Linked DNA regions of Homo sapiens. The protein of the gene in region 2 purifies or fractionates together with the protein of the main gene of each other region. This does not show direct contact. Each region holds a gene or a part of one and is shown on either strand. Other genes may lie near its edges.

Region 1 (3,348 bases), on a different chromosome or scaffold from region 2:
AGAGGGAGAAGCAGGGACTTGGGAGGCCTGTTTGCTGAGAAGCTGAAGTTTAGGAGTGGAGCAGGAGAGGCCCAAGCTCCTGAAGGCATCAGAGGCCAGAGGCTCGGGGACAGGAACAGACACAGGGAGGGGGCCAGGAGAAGCTGAGGCTGGAGTGGCCTATGGTCCTGGGAAGAAGCTGGCTGGCTGGCGGCGGCGGCGGCGGCGAAAGAGGCCCTGGCTGGGAGTCTGCCCAGGCAGCCGACGGGGTGGGAAGCCTGTGGGTTTCCATGGAAACTGGAGCTGGCCTGAGAAGAGACTCCACCCATCTCCCGGGCAGGCCCAGGGAAAACTTCAGCCCTTAGAGGGGCATTAAGCGCCATACGAGGGTCTTAGCCCCCGAAGCTGAGCCTGCCCTAGGTTCAGAGTTCAAACTCCTTGCCCTCCTAACCCTTCCCTCCTCCACAGGCACACAGGGTCAGGATCCGGTTAGCCAGGCCGGGGAAACCCCCACTCAACAGGGAAAATCCTCGCCCCCATAGATGGGTCAGGGCCCCGACCTGGCTTGTTTGGGAGGGGACAGTCCCATCCCTGCCAGAGGAGGAGTCACATGAGTTGTCAGCCCTGGCAGAGGTGTCACAGCCTCTGCCATCTCTGAAATGTAACTTTGGGGAAACCTAGGTACTAGAGGTGTAGCCAGCTAGGGACAAGCCCCAGGACACTTGGGTCAGCAAAGGTCACGAGGCTGGACTCGGGGTTCACTGCCGAGTCACTGCCACTTTATAAGGCCTGGTGCCTACCAGCTGAGCCAGTGGGCCTCCCCTCCCCCGCACATAGCCCTGAACTGAGGAAGTCATCCAAGCCCCACCCTAACTCTGCGCCGGGAGCGGAAATGTTTGTCCTTGTCGAGGCCGATGGGGAGACAACAGAGCCATGACGTGTTCCTTCCTGTGGGCCCAGACTCTGGATTCCTGAGCCACCACCCCCGCAGCCTCAAGATCTCCCCCTAACCTAGGCCTCTGTGACTTGTTCACGAATGGCCAGTCATCTGGCCATTCCACAAGGGGAGAAAATGGGCCCTGGCTCAAGAGTCCTGGGGTAGGACAAAGCCTTTCTGACCACAGCCTTGCTCTACATCTGCCCCTCTGTTGCCTGCGCTTAGGAAGTTTGCCTCTAAGCTGCAAGACCCTGTCGGCCGCTCTCCCTGATGACTCAGGGGCACCCCATGCTCAGCACATGCTCACAGCAACAATGCTCTCAGGTTAAGCCAGAGCCAGACTGGAGGGAGGGATCCTGGGAGGGAGGAGTGTTTGCTCTAGCAACCCATGGCAACTCCACAACACAGGTCTTTCCCCTCCCACTTGCCCTTCAGGCCAGCGGGGCCAGGGCTGTGCAGCCAGGACAGAACTCAGAAGCCAAAGCCTGCGGGTGACTCAGGTGCCTGAGGGAGTTTCGGGAGCAGAGGGCAGCCATCTCAGAACTGATTCTGGAGGAAGTGGGATCAGAGGCCAAAGGCAGAAGGTGGAAGGGGGCTTCATGAGTCATCTGCCCTCAGCCTGGGCCAGGTGTAGGGGAGATCTTTGTGCCAGCCACCCTAGAGTAGATCTGGGTGGAAGATGACTGGATTCAACACCCCCAGGGCTGGAAGGATCTGTGGGGTTGAAGGAGCTGAGTCTGTCAGTCCTTCCTGGTTAGGGGTTGGAGGCTCTGCCTCCACAGTCCAGGCTGAGGCAGAGGCCTGCCTCTCCTTCCAGAGAAGTCGGGTGGAAGGGAGAAATGGCAGTCTCTAAGACTCCGAGCGTACCTGGCTAACTTCCATAGTGCCCAGAGAAGGAGCTCAGTCGGCAAGGACTAGCCGAGGATCCCAGTCCTAGCAGCCTCCTGTCCCCTGCTCATGTGTCTAACAGCCTTTAACCTTCTCAGCACCTAGGAACCCAGGCAGCCTGGGACTATCTGATCCACTTGTTCTAAAACACAGGTAAGAAGGGGGTAGAAGGTAAAAACCCTTGACATCACTGAGCAAGAGGCTGGGGTGGGTAGACAGATGCCTGGTGAAGGCCACCCTGAGTGTGGTTCCTCCAGCCAGCAGGTCCATGGCCAGCAGGCCTCTGCCCCCGGGACGCCAGGAGGAGGAGAATGCCAAAGACTCCGGGCGGAAACCCTCACCGGTGCGGCCCCGAGGCTGCCTGCCCAGCATTGATGAGGCCCGACCGGCAGGTCCAGGTCCAGCCCCGGCCTCGCGCCGGGGCTCCATGCTGGGCCTGGCCGCGTCCTTCTCCCGCCGCAACTCGCTGGTCGGGCCAGGCGCGGGTCCTGGGGGTCAGCGGCCATCCCTGGGCCCGGTGCCCCCTCTGGGCTCAAGGGTCAGCTTCTCAGGGTTGCCCCTGGCGCCCGCCCGTTGGGTGGCGCCCTCCTACCGCACGGAGCCAGTGCCCGGGGAGCGCTGGGAGGCTGCGCGTGCACAGCGTGCCCTGGAGGCGGCGCTGGCCGCAGGGCTGCACGACGCGTGCTACTCCAGCGACGAGGCCGCGCGGCTGGTGCGGGAGCTCTGCGAGCAGGTGCACGTTCGCCTGCGCGAGCTCAGCCCGCCACGCTACAAGCTGGTATGCAGTGTGGTGCTGGGGCCGCGCGCGGGCCAGGGCGTTCACGTGGTCAGCCGTGCGCTCTGGGACGTGGCGCGCGATGGGCTGGCCTCGGTCTCCTACACCAACACCTCGCTCTTCGCGGTGGCCACGGTCCACGGGCTCTACTGCGAGTGAGGGGGAGTCCAATTCTGCAAAATTGTTTATTATCCTAGGAGGAGGCCCCCCTGGGGCTCACATCCCAATAAATAAGTGTCTGACAATAAATAAAAGTGGTCCATAAATAACGCCCCCTAGCTGGGAGCTAAGGCTCAGGCTTATCTTGGAGATGGGGTAGGAGCCAGCGAAGACAAGCCGCCCCCAACTCCAGTAAAGCTGGTCCCTGATTCCCTGGGGGATTCGGCCCAAAGCCCCCAGTGAGGCACCAAAGGAAGGGGGAAGGCCACAAAGGCAAGGGCCAGAGCCTGACAGGCACAGGCCTCAGGCCTCAGGGCTTGGGTCCTAGGCTGGGCTGCGGTCCCGGAGCAGGCGCAGAGCATAGCGGAGTCGCTGCCGCAGGTCTGGAGAGCAGCCCAGCTGCCGAAGGTGGGAAGCGAGGTAAGTACAAGCACTACGATTTCGGGCCACAAAAGTCACAAGGAGGGGCTCCCAGCCACTGAGAATCAGCTTGGTGTGGTCCCCGTAGAAGTTCACCTGCACACAGAGCATGACAGTGGTCAGGACCTAGGCTCCGGGCCCAGCTTCCTCCCCAGCACCCTGGGCCTCCCAGACCTTCCCGCAACTCCTG
Region 2 (3,500 bases):
GAGTAATATTTCTCTTCTAATTCCACTGAATTATAAATTTTGTTTATATTATTCCTGGTCAGTGCTCAAGGTATGAGGAATTAATTGTAACTAGCCAGATGTTGTGTAGAGACTACACACTAGCATAGTCTATTCCTTATGTGGCCTGTTCTCCAGCTGTCAGCCTGTTTTGTTTGTTTGTTTGTTTTTTTACTTTTTGCTACCAGCCCATGTAAGTCTCCTATTTCTAAATCTTTACTTCCTTCCAGAATCTAACCAGATTTTACCAGCTTCTTGAAGAGCTGGTTCTTTCATTAGGTTTTTAATGATAAACATACTTTGTGGGATGAGAATGGCCATCCATGAATTCCTGGAGGGCAGGAACTATTCCTTACTCATCTTTATTCTCCTAGTCCAGCGTGGTACCTGGCACAAGGTCCTTAGTCAGTATTTTCAGGCAAAGATAAATTGGTGCATCTTATTCTGAACTTTGTAATAGACATGTGCAACAAACTGATCATTGTGAAAATACAACTTTTGTGATATCAGTTTTCCTTTCCCAAAACAAAGCCTTGCTTACATAACAGAAACACTTTGCAACAACTTGTATGAATTCTGTCAGTTCTTGAGTGAGCTTCCAATGGGAAACTCTATCCTTTTATTCTCCTTGATATCAAATGGTGCTATCATATTTGTATCATAACTTTTTTTTAACAACAAACGTCTGTAATTATTTTATTTAAAACTTGTTAAATTATCCTATGGGTTTAAAGAAAGGAGTTAATTCATTTTTTTAAAGATTTTTCTCTTTTTAACACCTACCTCTTACACAGAAAGACAACTCTTTTTTTATGATAAAAGGAGCCCTTGAAAAAAAATGCACACATCCTTCTAATGTATTTCTATATAGACAGGAAAAACTATACATGTGGTTTTAAAAAAATCAATGATAACTCCTCTGGTCTATAAGAATATGGTTTGGCAATCAACTTTGTAACAGAATGATAAAAAGAAATTATTGATTGATTGCGAATTCTGTTATCCAAAGCTATCTCTTTGTATTGGAAACCTATAAAAATAACCAAAGATAATTCTTCATTAGAATCCTAATATCTATAAAATCAGACTAGGAAAATTTGAGTAATTAAGTGGTCAAGAATCTTTTATTCATTTTCCTTTTTCTCATTTTCTTTTAGAACTGCCATTGGATGTCCAGAATCCCCTGTAGTTGATAATGTTGGGAATAAGCTCTGCAACTTTCTTTGGCATTCAGTTGTTAAAAACAAATAGGATGCAAATTCCTCAACTCCAGGTTATGAAAACAGTACTTGGAAAACTGAAAACTACCTAAATGATCGTCTTTGGTTGGGCCGTGTTCTTAGCGAGCAGAAGCCTTGGCCAGGGTCTGTTGTTGACTCTCGAAGAGCACATAGCCCACTTCCTAGGGACTGGAGGTGCCGCTACTACCATGGGTAATTCCTGTATCTGCCGAGATGACAGTGGAACAGATGACAGTGTTGACACCCAACAGCAACAGGCCGAGAACAGTGCAGTACCCACTGCTGACACAAGGAGCCAACCACGGGACCCTGTTCGGCCACCAAGGAGGGGCCGAGGACCTCATGAGCCAAGGAGAAAGAAACAAAATGTGGATGGGCTAGTGTTGGACACACTGGCAGTAATACGGACTCTTGTAGATAAGTAAGTATCTGACTCACGGTCACCTCCAGTGGAATGAAAAGTGTTCTGCCCGGAACCATGACTTTAGGACTCCTTCAGTTCCTTTAGGACATACTCGCCAAGCCTTGTGCTCACAGGGCAAAGGAGAATATTTTAATGCTCCGCTGATGGCAGAGTAAATGATAAGATTTGATGTTTTTGCTTGCTGTCATCTACTTTGTCTGGAAATGTCTAAATGTTTCTGTAGCAGAAAACACGATAAAGCTATGATCTTTATTAGAGAATAGAGTAAATATGGAGTGAGTTTATGTTGCTAGCTACAATAGGAAATGGTTTCATGAAGGCTCACTGTTAATGGTACATGCCTGTCTATTCCACTGACCTCAGATTCAAGGTAAGTTGTTTTACCAAGAACATGGCTACAGGCAACTTCTCTTGGCAACATAAGGACTAAGGTCAAGGAGAGTTTTCATTATCCTTTATTTGATCCTTTATCCCTTATTTGACTATCTTTAATCCATTTAGGAAGCTTGTCAGTTGATACTGCAAGGCACACCTGTACCTGTTTTGTCTTTTCCTCTGCTTTGTCTACCTCTAAATACAAAATCATAGATTGAATAACAGTGAAATTAAAGGGCATCCAAGTAGAAAAAAACATTTAACTTAAGGTTGTATATTTCAGTAGTTAAGAGCACAAAGCTTAGAACCATGATGGGCCTAGCTCAAGTTCTGGCCCAGTGCCTTACTAACTGCATGACATTGGGTAAGTTACTTCTTGAAGCCTCAGATTCCTCATCTGTAAATGGGGGGATAATATTGTTCCCACAAGGATTATCATGAGATAATGTACATAAGGCATTCAGTGTGGAGCTTTGTACTTAACAGTTGCTCAGTAGATGGTAGTATTTTTTAAAAAGTTACTTATGTGTTCTTTTTGCTTCAGGCCCTGCTAGTAAATTTAAGTATATAAACATTTGATAATCGCATTTATAGAAACCCAGTTTCGTTTAGTTCCTCAAAAATTAAGCATAAAACAGAGTGTACCTGTGAATACAAACGAATTTTTAGAGCTGTATTAAACTTTTCCATAAAATACTGGAGCATTTGTTAGTCTTCGAGAAGAATAATTTTTTGGCCAGACACAATGGCTCATACCTGTAATTCCAACACTTTTGAGAGGCTGAGGTAGAAAGATAGCTGGAGGCCAGGAGTTCAAGACCAGCCTAGGCAACATAGGGAGATCCCATCTCTGCAAAAAAAATTTAAAAATTATCCAGGTACAGTGGCACTTGCCTGTGATCCCAGCTACTCAGGATTCTAAGACCGGAGTACTGCTAGAGTCCAGGAGTTTCCAGCTGCAGTGAGCTATGATCACACCACTGCACTCCAGCCTGGGCAATAGAGCAAGACCCTGTCTCAAAAATTAATTAATCAAAAAAAATTTTTTAAATCCCTTGTACCAAATTGTAATAAAAGTTATCCTTCCCAAATAAGGAAGTAAACCACAAACAATGTTAATTTAAGCTCATTGGAAAAATGGGTGCAGAATAGACTTTGAGAGAGAGAGTTTTTTTGTTTTGTTTTGTTTTTAAAGAGACAGGGTCTCACTTTGTCACCCAGGCTGGCGTACAGTGGCGTGATCATGACTCACTGCAGCCTCAGCCTCCTGGACTCAAACCATCCTCCCACCTCAGCCTCCTAAGTAGCTTGGACTACAGGCGTGTGCTACTGCACCTGGCTAATTTTTAAAAAAGTTTTTGTAGAGCCAGGTCTTGCCATGTTGCCCAGGCTGGTCTCAAATACCTGGACTCAAGCGATTGTCGAGCTTCAGCCTCCTTAAG

What was found. Proteins that work in one complex are often made in the same cells at the same time.
Region 1: the proteins of RSPRY1 (region 2) and DYNLT4 purify together in Homo sapiens (co-immunoprecipitation; one large-scale study listed by IntAct). This does not show direct contact.

What each region holds. Positions count from the first base shown.
Region 1 is NC_000001.11:44,805,393-44,808,740, reverse strand, and holds DYNLT4 (dynein light chain Tctex-type 4), read left to right. Parts: upstream 1-1,389; 5' UTR 1,390-1,416; exon of another isoform or gene 1,417-1,902; 5' UTR 1,903-1,957; exon of another isoform or gene 1,958-2,061; 5' UTR 2,062-2,072; coding exon 2,073-2,738; 3' UTR 2,739-2,848; downstream 2,849-3,348. Other genes in the region: serine/threonine-protein kinase PLK3, read right to left, coding at 3,063-3,254.
Region 2 is NC_000016.10:57,203,329-57,206,828, forward strand, and holds part of RSPRY1 (RING finger and SPRY domain-containing protein 1 isoform 1 precursor), read left to right. Parts: intron 1-1,175; 5' UTR 1,176-1,330; coding exon 1,331-1,680; coding exon of another isoform or gene 1,681-1,684; exon of another isoform or gene 1,685-2,053; intron 2,054-3,500.